Homo sapiens: one gene and its partners. The protein of the gene in region 3 interacts with the protein of the main gene of each other region in a pairwise test. Each region holds a gene or a part of one and is shown on either strand. Other genes may lie near its edges.

Region 1 (3,745 bases), on a different chromosome or scaffold from region 3:
CTTGCCTGCCAAACGCTTTCCTCTCAATTCCTGCTAGGAGCAGGCAGTCCCGATCCAGCAAGGTTCCCATCCTCCCTGACCCAGGCTGCCGGACACCCAGTCACTCTGCATCAGCACTCCGCAGGCCTGGCCCCGGACGCCCACAGCCACTCACCTCAACTCCTGGTTTAACACTTTGATCTTTCCGTTTTCCATTAGTGAGTAGTTGGCCTGGATGCAGCGTCCATTCTCAAAGGTTGTTGGGATCTTCTCAATTTCGTACCATCTTCCGAGATACTGCAGAGACAACAAGCAGAGCAAAACCCTGTGGTTCTCTGGGGACCTGCAACTTCTTCCCCATTGTCGTGCAGACGCAGAGCCCTGTCCTGGGGAAGCCAGACAAAATGGGCCTCATTGTTCCCAGTGGCAACTGGGCAAGAGATTGATTGCAATGAGAATCTGTGACTAGGATGGGATGTGCGGGCAGGGGGTGAATGCTGAGTAAAGGGCTCTTCTCAGGGCCCACTTCAGCCAAAATCGCTGTGACATTCTAGACTCTGTAAAAAAAGGGGATGATGGGAAATACCTTTCATCTGAAACAGTGCACAATTCTACAAGTCATCTTTGAATCCTGTGCAAAGTCAGATGTGTTCGCTGTGGGGAGCTAGGACTCCAGAGCGCACGGAACTTTCCTCATCTGACCCTGAGGAGGGATTTAGTCATCAAGGCTTTGGAGAGGTGGTGGGGATTTGAAAGGTCTGTATCATGCTTTCTCTAGGGGCCTGCGCTCAGTCCAGACTTCAGGTGTATACAGTTAGCTTTAAAGGAAGCTGCCACTGTGTGGGGAAGGTCGAGGGAACCAGGCCCTCCTAGGCTGCCTGGCACGCGTTGCAGGGAGACCATACCAGTTTACAACCTCTGCGGAGGGCAGTTTGGCAATATCTAGCAAAGCTAAAAATACATATTATACTCTTTGGCCCAGCAATTTCACTTCTGGGAATGCATCCTCCTGATATAAGAAATGATGTATGTGTAAAGTTATTCATTACAGTACCGTTTGTAATAATACAAGATAGGAAACAGCCTATGTGAGCATTAGTAGGGGGCTGGGTGAGTAAACGATGGCATATCCAGACAATGGAATTTTACTTCCTCTTTCAAAAGAGTGGTATGCAGTGATTTCTAATATTTAATGACAAAAGAGTCAGGTACAAAATAGTGTATCTATTAAGGCACCTTTTGTGTAAAAATGGAGAAAATGTTTATTACGTTGGTTTTCTGTTGCTGCTATAATAAATTAGCACAAGCTTCAAACAGCACAGATTTATTATCTTGCAGTTGTGTAAGTCAGAAGTCTGACAGGTCTCACTGGGCTGAACTCAAAGTGTTGGCTGTGTTTCCCTCTGGGAGCTCTAGGGGAGGATCAGTTTCCTTGCCTTTTCCAAGTTCTACAGGCCGCCTACATTCCTTGGCTTGAGGCTTCCTCTATTTTCAAAGCCAGCAAAAGGAAGTCAGATCCTTCTCACATTGCATCTCTCTGACTCTTATGCCATCATCAAACCTCTCTCTCTTATCACAGCTGGGAAAGATTCTCTGCTTTTAAGGATTTATGTGATTAGATTGAGTTCCCCTGGATAATCAAGGCTAATCTGGCCATCTCAAGGCTCATAACTTCGATCACATTTGCAAAAGCCCTTTTCCCATGCAAAGTAACATTCACAAGGTTAGGGCGTGGACACCTTTGGAAGCCACTCTTCTGCTTACCACAGTTATTAAGTATTTGCTTGTATATGTATATATTATCTGTAAAATTACATAATACATGGTTTTTACTAGTTGCTACTGGGGAGGGAAACTGAGGTACAGAGGTGGGAGGGAAACTTTATGTGGTGTATTCTTTTACACCTTTAGGATTTTGAACAATGTAAATATATTTATCTAGTTAAAATACTAATTAGAATTTTGTTTTTTTGAGATGGAGTCTCACTATGTCACCAGAGTGGAGTGCAGTAGTGCAATCTGGGCTCACTGCAACCTCTGCCTCCCGGGTGCAAGTGATTCTCCTGCTTCAGCCTCCCGAGTAGCTGGGATTACAGGCACGTGCCACCATGCCCGGCTAATTTTTGTATTTTTACTGGAGAAGGGGTTTCACCATGTTGGCCAGGATGGTCTCAATCTCCTGACCTAGTGATCCCCCTGCCTCGGCCTCCCAAAGTGCTGGGATTACAGGCGTGAGCCACCGCGCCTGGCCTATTCTAGAAATTTAAAAACAAAAAGAGATGCGCTCACCTTCAGAGTCAGAACTTGAAAAGAGAGGATGCTGCACACAGGTGAGTATTGCTTCAGCCACGGCTTTCCGCTCAAATGTATGCCACATTCATGACCATAAAGTTCTACTCACTTATTAAAGCACAGCTTTCAATTAAAGCCACTGAACTTAACATTCATTTAAAGTACCAAAGAATAAGGTTAGAGGTTAACTGGTTTCATAGACATTCTCGGAAGAAGCTCCATTTTCTATGGTGCATTCAAATCTGTTCTATTTCTGTTAAAGTGAGTTTAGTGCCCCATAGTAAAAACCAAGGAAGCATGATTTTTCAGAAAAGAGGAAACTCAGAGCTTCCTTATGATCTCATATTATTTTTGCAAAGGCTTCTTAATCTTTTCAGATCTCTGGTCAGTATTGAAAAATAATCCTAGAAAAGAAGAGGTAAAACTCTATCTGTTTGCAGATGACATATAAAATATCCTAAGAAATCTAAAACAGAGACAAAACCAAAAACTATTGGATCTAATGAGTTAAGCAAGGTTACAAGATACAAGATTAATATTCAAAAATCAAATATATTTCTCAGCCAGACGCAGTGGCTCATGCCTGTAATCCCAGGACTTTGGGAGGCCGAGGCGGGTGGATCACTTGAGGTCAGGAGTTCAAGACCAGCATAGCCAACATGGCGAGGCCCCATCTCTATAAAAAATTTAAAAATTAGCCGGGCATGGTGGCACGCAACTGTAATACCAGCTACTCGGGAGGCTGAGGCAGGATAATCTCTTGAACCTGGGAGGCAGAGGTTGCAGTGAGCTGAGATGGTGCCACTACACTCCAGCCTGGGTGACAGAGCAAGACTCTGTCACACACACACAAAAATATATACATATATAAACATATTTCTCTACTTGCAATGAACAATTTGCAGATGAAATTAAGAAAATTCCATTTAAAAGGCCGGGCACGGTGGCTTGCTCACACCTGTAATCCTAGCACTATGGGAGGCCGAGGCGGATGGATTGCCTGAGCTCAGGAGTTCGAGACCAGCCTGGGCAACATGGTGAAACCCCGTCTTTACTAAAATACAAAAAAACTTTGCTGGGTGTGGTGGCGTGTACCTGTAGTCCCAGCTACTTGGGAGGCTGAGGCAGGAGAATTGCTTGAACCCGGGAGGCGGAGGTTGCAGTGAGCCAAGATGGTGATGCTGCACTCCACCCTGGGTGACAAAGTGAGACTCCGTCTCAAAAAAAAAAAGAAAAGAAAAGAAAAAGAAGAAAATTCCATTTACAATAACATCAAAAGAATAAAATATTTGGGAATAAATTTAACCAAAGAAACATAAAACTTATACTCTGAAAACTACAAAGTATTGTTGAAAGAAATTAAAGATGACCTAATTCAATGGAAAGATACACTATGTTGACAAGTTAGAAGACTTAATATTGTTAAGATGGCAGTACTCCCCAAATTGATCTTCAGATTTAATGCAATCTGTAT
Region 2 (4,201 bases), on a different chromosome or scaffold from region 3:
CTGGGGACTTGTCCCTTCAGAGGGGGGTTGGGGCTGTGGGGGAGGAAGCCAGCAGGGGTCTGCAGCAGGACCCTGCCTTCCCCCAGTGCAGTCCAGGAAGGGTGGGTGGGCTGTTGGGGACGGAGGGGGCGGCGGGGGGCTGGCAGGAGTGGAAGCAGGGTTGTGACATTCCTTCTGCACCCACGCTGCAGTGGGGCCCACTTGAACGTGAGGGGATTGCTAATGAGGTGGAAGAGAGTTAAACATTCCCCTACTCCTGAAGACCAAGAGAGACTGGGAGAGAGAAGAGGGAGGTGGGGGTGCTCGGAGCGGGCAGCCTGAACCCCGGGAATGTGCAGAGGCCACTGCTCCGCGCCAGGCTGCTCTAGAGTTGGGGGCCAGGGCCCAGTGTTCCAGTCCCAGCAGGAGCTACTAAGCCAGCCAGCAAGGGGATTAAGGGGCTGAGCAATCCGCCTTCCTTCAGGCTGATGCCAGAAGGTTGGGGCTGTCTCCCCAGCTCCCCACCAGGCCCCTTGCTGGCCGGCAGCCAGCGCTGGCCCAGCCTCGATAGGGCCCCTTTTCTGTCCCCCTCAGATCTCAAAAAGACCCCACAGTACATATTTCCTGGTCTGGCCTCCCTGATTTTTGGCACACACAGCTCCCAGGTACCCATGACCCCTCTTCCCAACACCCCACCGCTAGCTCAGCCTCCCCACATCCAGCTTCAGAGCCCCTGCCAAAAAGTTATCCTTGACATCTAACTCTAGTTTTACCCGCTGCAAACTGGCATTCCTTTCCCTTCTGTCCTAAAGTCAAAGGGCAGAAAACCCCAAGGGTTAGATCAGCCTTGCAAGAGCAAAGTCCATCCTCCCAGGGCTGGTGTTTGGGTTAGGGATTATCCGAATTTTAGGACACCCGAATCAGGTTCCTAAAGGGGTTTCCCTGTGGGGAAAGGCCCAGAGGGCAGCTGGGTCATTCCTCTCAGCCCCTCCCTTCCCTATCCCTGCGGAACGGGGCGGGGCAGGGACACCACCTGGGCCATGGGCCGGCCCTCCGCCCCCAGGGGGCTGGGCATGAGCTTTGCTGGGGACCCTGCTCTGGCTTAGGCGGCTGCTGTGGGCGGGCCCTGGCCTTTTCCAGCCCCTGGGCCTCCCCCTGCATTCTGGAGTCCAGAGCCACTGCCTTTGCTCCAGCCGCTGCCGCCGCACCACCTCTCCTTCTCTGCCTCTGACCCTCCTTCTCGCTGCTCCCCCTGCCCAGCTGCTCCTCCCACCTGGCCATGACCAAAGCCCCTGCTGGCACCCTGGCCCAGCTCTGAGTCCTGGGACCCTCGGTCCTCTCTCCTGGGCCATGGCCAACTCAGGCCTCCAGCTCCTGGGCTACTTCTTGGCCCTGGGTGGCTGGGTGGGCATCATTGCTAGCACAGCCCTGCCACAGTGGAAGCAGTCTTCCTACGCAGGCGACGCCATCATCACTGCCGTGGGCCTCTATGAAGGGCTCTGGATGTCCTGCGCCTCCCAGAGCACTGGGCAAGTGCAGTGCAAGCTCTACGACTCGCTGCTCGCCCTGGACGGTAGGCCCCAGGCCGGCGGGGTGGGAGATGGGAGGTGGGAACAGCAGGGGAGTCTGGAGCAAGTTTTCCTCACAGTCTGCTATCTGCGCTGGGCTCCAACCTCCAGCCTCCGCTCTACAATTCCCCCACTACTGCCCTGTGCCCATTGACGGTCCAGGCCAGCCTGCTGCCCTGTGGGAGGGGAGGGCTCTAGGGTCTGGCGGCTGTGGGTCCAGATTCCTGCTCTGTCACTATAACTTTGAACTAGTCACCAAACCTCTTCCCATTGTGATGTTCTCATCTCTAAAGGGGAATACTAATACCTGTGGCACTCTGAAAGACTCAGTTAAGACCCTTCATCCACTTCTCCCCACAGTCAGTAGACAGACACACACTGTATGATGCACACCTGCTCCCTAGTCCTGCTCCCAGGCCTGTGTGCCAGCATATGGGTGCATGCACATGCATGCAAACACGCATGCACACGCACACACGTGCACATGCATGCACAGACAGGTGTGTCTGCATGCAGTCCCTCTCCTTCTGGGGTGTGGAGATGAGCCTGACAGGCACCGCCGAAGTTCTAACTCTGGGGTGGAGGTGATCCACCTGCAATCTGCCCAGGAGCCCCCAGGGACAATCTGCTCCCCATGGGAGCTGGGAGCAGAGCGGCCTTCAACCAGCCCCATTGTGCCAGTTCAGGCAGGTCAGTTCAGGCAGGTCATCTAGCCTCGCTGAGGGACCCAGGTCTCCTGAGCACCCCCCAGGGCCCAGGATGGACCCATGCACCCGTGAAGAGGCAAGCTTCCAGCTGCCATGGGCAGAGGGGAAAGTGACTGTTGTCTGAATGGCTGCTGGGGAGGGGTTGCTGCGGGGCTCAGGCTGAGTTGAGCTGGGCCTCAGATACCCCCAGCTCTTCCACCTACCAAACCTGAGGGGACCCTGGAGCTGCCCTCAGCTGCTTGGGAGGATGGGCCAAGCCCAAGAGGGAGTCCCCAGGCCAGAAAGCAACAGCAGAGTGAATCATACTACCGGAAAAGCCTGCAAGGGCGAGTGGAGAATGGCGTTGACAGTGAAGGGGACTCTCACCCCCACACCCTGTCCTCATGCCCGGGCTGTCACTCCTCACTATCCTGCACCTGCCAGAAGGTGGTCTGACCCCCCAGGCCAGCTCCTGCTCAAGCCCCTCTCAAGCTGGGCTCCTTCCACCGACCCCAGGCACCGACCCAACCCCCATCCCCGCCAGCCCGACTCAGTGTCATCCCGCCCACCCTAGGTCACATCCAATCAGCGCGGGCCCTGATGGTGGTGGCCGTGCTCCTGGGCTTCGTGGCCATGGTCCTCAGCGTAGTTGGCATGAAGTGTACGCGGGTGGGAGACAGCAACCCCATTGCCAAGGGCCGTGTTGCCATCGCCGGGGGAGCCCTCTTCATCCTGGCAGGTGAGTGCCCCTCACTCCTGCACAATCACAACCATGGCAGGCAGCCCCAGCCCCAGTGGCCTCGGGGGGCCAGAGCAGAGCTGAGCGCCCCTCTGCTTTGTCTTTAGGCCTCTGCACTTTGACTGCTGTCTCGTGGTATGCCACCCTGGTGACCCAGGAGTTCTTCAACCCAAGCACACCTGTCAATGCCAGGTGGGTGCCAGGGCTTGGGTCTTTTGCTTTACCTCCTCTGGGGCCACTGACCTTTGTCCACTGGATCACCTGGCGGGGGAAGTGGGGACAGGATCCAGCTGCTGTCCAAGAAGCTTTAAAGGGGGGCGCCAGGAGGAGTGTGGTGGGGCCCTCCATAGGGGCGGGAGGCCTGTGATGGGCACCCAGGTGCAGCAAGGACTCTCTAAGGACCTAAGTGCCCTGGCTCTGGGTTTCAATCCCAGCTCTGGCTGGGTGCAGTGGCTCACGCCTGTAATCCCAGCACTTTGGGAAGCCAAGATGGGTGGATCACCTGAGGTCAGGAGTTCAAGACCAGCCTGGCCAACATGGTGAAACCCCGTCTCTATTAAAAATACAAAAAATATCTGGGCATGGTGGCGGGCGCCTGTAATCTCAGCTACTCGGGAGGCAGAGGCAGGAGAATAGCTTGAACCCGGGAGGCAAAAGTTGCAATGAGCCGAGATTGCGCCACTGCACTCCAGTCTGGGTGACAGAGTGAGATTTTGTCTCAAAAAAATCAAACGATCAATCAATCCCAGCTTTGCATGCACTGTGTCACCTGGGCAAGTTACTTAATCTTTCTGTGCCTAGTTTCCTCCTCTGTGAAATGGAGCTAGAACCTGAGCACCAGTTCACACATGGTTGTCAGGATCCAGCAGGATGCAGGTGAGGGTGTGGCACCGTGCCCGGGCCCTGGACAGTACCCAGCAAGCCTGAGCTGTTTTCATTTCTGCTGGTGGCAGCAGGGCTGAGATGACTTCCTGCAGGAGGCAGCAGTTATTCTGGGCCAGGAAGAAACTTGAGAATAAGGGCAGATCGTGGAGGGCCTTGCAACCACAGGAAGATTTTGTTCCTCATTTGGGTGGAGGCAGCGGCAGTCCTTCTGGCTGTGATGTGCAGAATGGTGGGGAGGGAGTGACACCAGGAAGGCGGCTGTCCCAAAGGTCTGAGCAGAGAGTTTGGGGCAACAGGGAGGGAGCAGTGGAAAGCAGGCTGATATTCAGGAGATAACCAGGACT
Region 3 (3,988 bases):
CAGGTTGCAGTGAGCCAAGATCGTGACACTGCACTGTAGCCTGGAAGACAGAGGGCGACTCTGTCTCAATAAACAAAAGAACAAACAAAAAATAGATTTCATGCACAGATGCTTCCCAATGGATCATTCATTTATAGATCCACTTGTGCATTCATTTTCTGCCCTCCCATTTAACCATCTGCAATATCAGTGTCCCAAGGGCAGAAGCCAAATGCATCTTGTTCACCGTTTGTGGAAGGCAGGAGAATGCTGTCCCACCCCAAAATGTCCCTGTCCTAGCCTCCATAGCTTGTGAATATGTTATTTTACATGGAAAGGAGGAATGAAGATTGTAGATGGAATTGCGGTTGCTAATCAGCTGAACTTAAAACAAGGGTATCCTGGATGATTTCCAGGAGATTATGAGGGATTTTCATCTTGGTGAACCCAATAGAATCCCCAAGTTTTCAAAAGATAAGGAAGAAGGGAGAGCAGCATTCAGAGAAAGAGGTGTGGTAAGGAAGAAGGCACTGAGTGATGCCATGTGAGATGTGACCAGTCTTTGTGGGCTTTGAGGAAGGAGGAAGGGGAACAGGAGCCAAGGAACTGGGAGCCTTTAGAAGCTGGGATAAGTGAGAAGCAGATTCTTGCCTGGAATCCTCAGAGGGAAGGCAGCCTTGCTGTCACCTTGATTTTAGCCCAGTAAGATGCACTTCCTACTTTGAGCTACAGCACTGTAAGATAATTAAAAAACCGTTTTGTTTTCACCCACGAATCTTGTGGAAATTTGTTATGGCAACAATAGGAAAAGGTTCCGCACTGCACAGCCTGAGCATGGGGCCGTGGCTGAATGAGTCAGTGAGTCGAAGTGTGCGTGCATGAGCTCCGTTCTCTGTTACGGCAAGGCTGTTGCTCTGCTGAGTCAGCCAGGGTTGCTTCATGACCAACAGTAATTCATTCCTTGGCAAGTGGAACTTCTCTAAAACACCTCGCCCTCATCAGATGTTCCCTTCCCTTCCCTCTCTCAAGCCCCCAGGAATTTATCCTCCAGTTAGGAATGCAGGCAGAACAAACATTGCATTTTTCCTGAGAAGGATGTCAGATTGGCAATCATTCTTCTAGCTTGTAGGAGGTCTCAGCTCCATAAAATGAGAGATTAAGAGATTTCACTGAGCCCTAGGTTGGGCCCAGATCCCTTTCGCTGTTGGAGTATCTGGAGTTCGGAGATGGTAGAAGACAGGCGTACAATGTCAGAGCTGCGAGATGCTGAGTCAATGCCTGCATCGAAGGTTTCTACCTCCCCAGGTTTCCAAAAGCGGATATAAGAGGGTTCTGTACTCACCGGTTTCGGAGCTTGGTTCAGTGGGTGAAGGCCAACTATTTGAAGGGTTTCCTAGAACACGAGACAGGAGAGAGGTGAGGAAATGAGGGTGTCTGTCCTCTACTCAATGGAAATCTTTGAGGTTGGTTCATGGCCAACACTCTGTTATCTAATATTGGGCCCTGGGAGTCCTGGGATCCTTTTTTCCGTAATTTTTGTATGTGACGCCCACTGTCTTGAGACTTCAAGGTATAAAGAGAAAACAGGAGCATCACACTACCTGATCTCAAAATATGTTACAGAGCTGTAGTAAGCAAAACAGCATCACATTGGCATAAAGAAAGGCACGTAGAACAATGGAGCAGAATGAAGAACACAGATATAATCCATGCATTTACCTCCAATGTTTTTTTCTTTTTTCTTTTGAGATGGAGTCTCGCTCTGTCACCCAGGCTGGAGTGCAGAGGTGCAATCTCGGTTCACTGCCACCACAGCCTCCTGGGTTCAATCAATTCTCTGGCCTCAAACTCCTGAGTAGTGGTATTACAGGTGCTGACCACCATGCTCAGCTAATTTTTATATTTTTAGTGGAGACAATGTTTCATCACGTCGGCCAGACTAATCTTGAACTCCTGGCCTCAGGTGATCCACCCGCCTTGGGCTCCCAAAGTGCTGAAATTGCAGGTGTCAGCCACCATGCCCAGCCCATCCAATGGACTTTGACAAAGGTGCCAAGAACTCACAATCAGGAAAGGACAGTCTTTTCAATAAACAGTGCAGGGAAACCTGGACATCTACATGCAGAGGAATGAAACTGCACCTCTACCTGTCACTATACACAAAACTCAAATGAAAATGGATTAAAGATGTGAGTCTAAGGCCTGAACCTATGAAACACGTAGAAGAAAATATTGGGGAAATGCTCCAGGACATTTGTCTGAAGGAAGACATTTTGTTTTAAACCTTCAAAACACAAGTAATCGAAGCAAAAATAGACCATTGGGATTACCTCAAACTAAGCAACTTCTGCACCGCTAAAAATAAACCAACAAAGTGAAGAGACAACCCACAGATTGGGAGCAAATATGTGCAAACTATGCATCTGAGATGGGATTAATAACTAGAAATATAAGAAGCTCAAACAACTCAATAAAACAAACGATTTAATTGAAAAAGGAGCAAAACACATGAAATTTCCCCACATACTAAAAAGTGCTCAGTTTCACTCATCATCAGAGAAACACAAATTAAAATCAAAGTGAGTTTTCATCTCACCCCATTAAAATGGATTTTAGGCCGGGCGTGGTGGCTCACGTCTGTCATCCTAGACCTTTGAGAGCCTGAGGTGGGTGAACCTCATAAGGTCGGGAGTTTGAGACCAGTCTGACCCACATGAAGAAACACTGTCTCTACTAAAAATACAAAATTTAGTTGGGCGTGGTGGCGTGTGCCTGTAATTCCAGCTACTCGGGAGGCTGAGGCAGGAGAATCGCTTGAACCTGGGAGGTGGAGGTTGTGGTGAGCCGAGATCGCACCACTGCACTCCAGCCTGGGTGACAAGAGCGAAACTCCATCTCAAAATAAAATGAAATAAAATAAAATGGCTTTTAGCTGCAAGACAGGCAAAGGAAATCCTGCCAAAGTGGTAGAGAAAGGAGAACCCTAATACCCTGTTGGTAGGAGTGTAAATTAGTACAGCCTTTACGGAGAAAAGTGTGGAAGTCCTTTAAAGAACTAAAAAGAGGTTGGGTGAGGTGGATCATGCCTGTAATCCCGGCACTTTGGGAGACCGAGGCGGGCACCTCAGTTGAGGTCATGAGTTTGAGAGCAGCCCAGCCAACATGGGGAAACCCCATCTATACTAAAAAAAACAAAAAGTAGCCAGGCATGGTGGCGTGCACCTGTAATCCCAGCTACTAGGGAGGCTGAGGCAGGAAAATCATTTGAACCCAGGAGGCGGAGGTTGCAATGAGCCAAGATGACTTCACTTGTACTCCAGCCTGGGCACAGAGGGAAACTGTCTCAAAAACAAAAACAAAACAACAAACGAATAACTAAAAAGAGAACTTTCATAGTATCCAGCAATTTCACTACTGGGTTTATATCCAAAGGAAAGTAAATCAATATATCGAAGTGATATCTGCACTCGTATGATTGGTGCAGCACTGTTCACAGTAGCCAAGATGTGGAGTCAACCTACCTGCCCATCAGTGGATGAATGGATAGAGAGAATGTAGTACATACGCACAGTGGAGACTACTCATCCATAGAAAGAATAACATCCTGATATTTGCAGCCACATGGATGGAACTGGAAGTCATTACAAAGATTCCCATTTCTCACCCATATACAGAGCTAAAAGGTGGATCTCATGAAGGTAGAGAGTAGAATGGTGGCTTCCAGAGGCCAGGAATAAAAGGGTGGAGGGTAAAAAAAAAAAAAAAAAAAAAAATATATATATATATATATATATATATATATATATGTTTATATATGTGTGTGTGTGTGTATATATATATATATATATATATATATAAATGTATTTATGACCACTAGACTTTACACTTAAAAATGGTAAATGTGGCTGGGCGTGGTGGCTCATGCCTGTAATCCCAGCACTTTGGGAGGCAGATGCGGGTGGATCACGTGGTCAGGAGTTGGAGACCAGCTCGACCAACATGGTGAAAC
Region 4 (3,745 bases), on a different chromosome or scaffold from region 3:
AGCTGGCTGAGGTTGGCATAAGTCCCCATGCAGAGAAGAGACTCTCATCTTAAAAGAAATCACTATGAGGCCAGGGGAACACATACTGTAGGGTGGCTTAGGCTAGGAAAACAGAGAATGGGAGAGAAAGAAAGATGTAGAATTGAGAGCACGTCTTAGCTGAGGTAGAACAGAGATCCTCCCATTGGAAGGCCCATGGCCATGGCAGAGTGGTGAAACCCACAGGGGATTACAAACTTGGGCCCTGGGAGTCAGGCCATCTGGGTTCAGAATTCTTGCTCTTTCAGTTGCCAACTATGTCACTTTAGACAAGTCATTTTACCTTTCTGTCTCATTTTTTTTCCTTTCTCAAATGACCAGAGTGATAATGCCTATTTCATAGATTTATGAGGATTAAGTAAAATGATAGATGTATTATTACTGTGCATATTGGATTGCCTGGGCACATAGTAAGGGGTTAATACATGTTGGTTGTTATAATAATGATAATTCATATTATTTTGCTTTTTGAGGTTGTACTCACAAAGTCTTGTTGTGTTGCTGCTGTGATACAAGATGCCACTTCAAAGGCATATACTATAAACATCAGAATGAAATACTGGAAGGGAAATAAATGAGATAAAAGAATTACATTTACCCGTCAAAGAGCGACTTGCCCAAATAATTATGTTTTTTCAGCAAATTTATCATATAATCATGTAATCACTCATGTAGTTATTCAACAAACCCTCATTGACCAGTGGCTTGGATTGAGGCTTGGTGCTAGTCAGCTCAATTCTCTCCTTTTCTCCAGAGAACAAATAGCCATTGAATACAGACCTTCCTCAGTCCAGTTTCCTGAGTTTCTATTTTAACTGGGAAAAACAAGTACAAGAGAATGAACTGGTGTGTATGTGTGCACACACACATGTGAGCATTTACATGCTCATTTACATGTGTGCATTTACATGCATGTGCATGCTCAGTGAGTGGCAAGAGAGTCTTAGTGTATCACATACAGTATAGGGCCTCATAAATCCCCTTTAATTTTGGAATTTTGGAGAAATTTTCTTTACAATTTGCTGAAAATTTAGAATCACGGAGTTCAGAAAAAGATGAACTGGATAATGTTGAACATCTAGGGTCCTTCCTAACAAGCATCCAGTCTCATCAGAGGAGAGGCAGGCTTCAAGTGCACAGCATTTGTGGGTGTTCTTTCACACGCACCCACACTCAAAGTACATTGGTTCAGTTGAGTGAAATGGCATTTGCTGTGTGTGGTAGTGGTGGTGTGTGTGCGTGAGCATGGGCACATGGGTGCGTGTGCACATGATACCTCCACATGACAGTGATGCTATTTCTGGCTGGAAAATATCCGAACAGCAAATGACCTCTGAATCTGGGATGGGGACTGTTTGCAAGAGTTCCAGCTTTGCCTTCCCCAGGCTTGCACACACTCTTGGGAGAAGGGGCACTGTGGTCAGTGTCAGCAGGGTAGGCAGGGAAAACTGTCCTCCTCTTTGGGTATGGGAGGCTCTCCGAGCAGGACCCTCTGTTGCCCTCACTACTCAGCCCAGAATAAAGCTCTGGCTACAGTCAACAGCAGGAGCACCTTCAGAGGCCCCAGAACATTTTTTTCCTGTGTTAGCTGCTGCCTTGCTCCTTGCCAAGAGCTTTGCTGGCTCCTGGTAAAGACGCTCCAGAAAGGAGGTATGCAGTGAGGTGTTTCCTCCTTTAGCCCCTTTGCCTCCCCAGCTCAGTTCTCCTGGTTGTCAGGCATGCACATGGCTGGCCCAAAGTGAGGCTGGGATGCAAGTGAATTTGTCTTTAGGAACACCTGTGTCTCCTCTCCCTTTTTCCTGTATTCCTTTCCCCACCCACCAAAAGTGGGTACTTTTGCCCTGGAACTTACGCACACTAAGGAACCAGAGAATGTAAATGTTCTGTAATCCATTGGAACCAGGACAGTGGTTAGTTAAAAGGAAGAGTAAACTAACAAGCACCTTACATTGCTGGACTCATTCTATAAAGGGGGAACTGAGGTCCTGCAGCATTTGAATAAAAGGGTTATTTCAGGGGTGGGGGATTGGAGGCGTGTTCCATAATAGTGTGAAACTGCTGCCCTAAGTATTAGGGCAGACAGTAGGGGTCCACGTCTGAAACAGGTTTCTCAGCTCTGCTGCCTGCAAATTTGCTTTCATCTGCAAAGGCAGGGCATGGTCTTGCTGTCTATGGTTTGGGGCAGAAGCCTCTCCTTGATGTACAGAGTTAAAGCCCCCACAGGCAGGTGTGAGCTGAAGGCTCACTCTACAGTGGTGCTTATCAAGGTTTTCTGGGGTCCCTGAAAAGCAGATTGGATGATAATGTGGGGAGTATAGGCTATGATACAGAATCATCAACCTTGAGCTCAAAAATCTTTGAAAGCTTATACTTTCTTTTAAAAATGTATGCATATTTTATATTTTATATCCTAATATATTAATGCCTAATTAATATCAAAATGTTTTAAACAAGTTATTGCCAAGAGAAAAAAATCTAATGAATGAATTCTCACTGTGTCTCTCCTTTGGCCTATATAGCTCCTAGCTGTACCTACTGGGTGTATGCAGACACCAGCTGTAGAGGCACAATATGGAAAATACTCATTAGGTCACCCCCAGGTGTCTCCCCTTTGGCTTCTCTGTACTGGAGCCTTCTGGGCTTGCAATAGTGGAGGGCATCTTTGCCTCCATGTGGACCATTTCACTGCAGGGAAAGTCTTCCCCTCCTCACCCCTTATCTGGTACTTCCTGCTCCCCCACTGAAAGCCAAAGCATTGCTCAGTGAAGAAGAAAGAATCCATTACAATTGGCTCAGGGAGACAACTCCAGAGAATTTTGAGGTCTTACCGCCAGAAGAATTTTCCTGCTGGACTTCATGATGCCTACAATGCCTAGAACAGACAGGCAGAAGAGGCAGATGCCCACAAATATGCCGATCCAGGCAGCCCCATAGATGTCATCGTTGTCGGTGGCTTCAAGCAGTGGGTAGAGGCTGTGTTGGTCAGATACAAAGAAGATGCACTCCGCAGTCAGGGCAATGCCGCAACACTGGGGGCAAATGAAAGGTGGGCTCCATCAGGAGTGCAGCTTTGGGAAAGGGGGTGGAGGGTGGGGAAGGTAAGAGTGACTGGCTCCCTTTCCTGCACAGGCTTTATGCAACTAATCTAAACTCCCCATTGCCAGGAAATCAAACAACTACTTCCATCCTACTAACTGGTTGCATACATCCCTTCACATGTTATTCTGTCTATTTAGTAACAGACCCACACAATTTCAGACCATCCACAATGTCCTTGGGGCATGAATCACTCAAACAATGCTTTCTGGTATGAGAATGATCTCCCCCTGCCCCCATGTCATGACCCACATTTCTGGGTTGTAATATTTGAGCTGGTCCTGGTCATATTTATCAATGACAGCTGAGAGGAACCTTGCTGCTTATCTTTGCCAACACCCACATTTTATAGATGAGGAATCTCAGCCTTGAAAGGTGATGGCCAGAGTCATATGGGGAGTCAGAGGGAGAGCTGGGCCAAGAGCTCTGGACTCCAAAACAAATGTTCTTCTATGCCACCAGACCCACACAGTATGGCCTCTGTATTATTCTTACACCCTGGTACTGGCCTCTGTATGAGAAGAACAAGATGCAAGCATCTGTCCCAAAAAACCTTAACAGCAGAGTCCCATGGAAATCAAACCAAGGTGACATAGAAAAGAAATAGTGA

Evidence for each region. The genes of interacting proteins can lie anywhere in the genome.
Region 1: the proteins of KIR2DL3 (region 3) and APOD interact in binary tests that used the Homo sapiens proteins (3 or more experiments, as listed by UniProt).
Region 2: the proteins of KIR2DL3 (region 3) and CLDN19 interact in binary tests that used the Homo sapiens proteins (3 or more experiments, as listed by UniProt).
Region 4: the proteins of KIR2DL3 (region 3) and UPK1B interact in binary tests that used the Homo sapiens proteins (3 or more experiments, as listed by UniProt).

Annotation. Positions count from the first base shown.
Region 1 is NC_000003.12:195,573,696-195,577,440, forward strand, and holds part of APOD (apolipoprotein D precursor), read right to left. Parts: intron 277-3,745; coding exon 155-276; intron 1-154. UniProt on the Homo sapiens protein: APOD occurs in the macromolecular complex with lecithin-cholesterol acyltransferase. It is probably involved in the transport and binding of bilin. Appears to be able to transport a variety of ligands in a number of different contexts.
Region 2 is NC_000001.11:42,737,192-42,741,392, reverse strand, and holds the start of CLDN19 (claudin-19), read left to right. Parts: upstream 1-1,156; 5' UTR 1,157-1,329; coding exon 1,330-1,552; intron 1,553-2,807; coding exon 2,808-2,972; intron 2,973-3,079; coding exon 3,080-3,164; intron 3,165-4,201. UniProt on the Homo sapiens protein: Forms paracellular channels: coassembles with CLDN16 into tight junction strands with cation-selective channels through the strands, conveying epithelial permeability in a process known as paracellular tight junction permeability.
Region 3 is NC_000019.10:54,744,719-54,748,706, reverse strand, and holds part of KIR2DL3 (killer cell immunoglobulin-like receptor 2DL3 precursor), read right to left. Parts: intron 1,373-3,988; coding exon 1,322-1,372; intron 1-1,321. UniProt on the Homo sapiens protein: Receptor on natural killer (NK) cells for HLA-C alleles (HLA-Cw1, HLA-Cw3 and HLA-Cw7). Inhibits the activity of NK cells thus preventing cell lysis.
Region 4 is NC_000003.12:119,187,098-119,190,842, reverse strand, and holds part of UPK1B (uroplakin-1b), read right to left. Parts: intron 3,069-3,745; coding exon 2,868-3,068; intron 599-2,867; coding exon 524-598; intron 1-523. UniProt on the Homo sapiens protein: Component of the asymmetric unit membrane (AUM); a highly specialized biomembrane elaborated by terminally differentiated urothelial cells.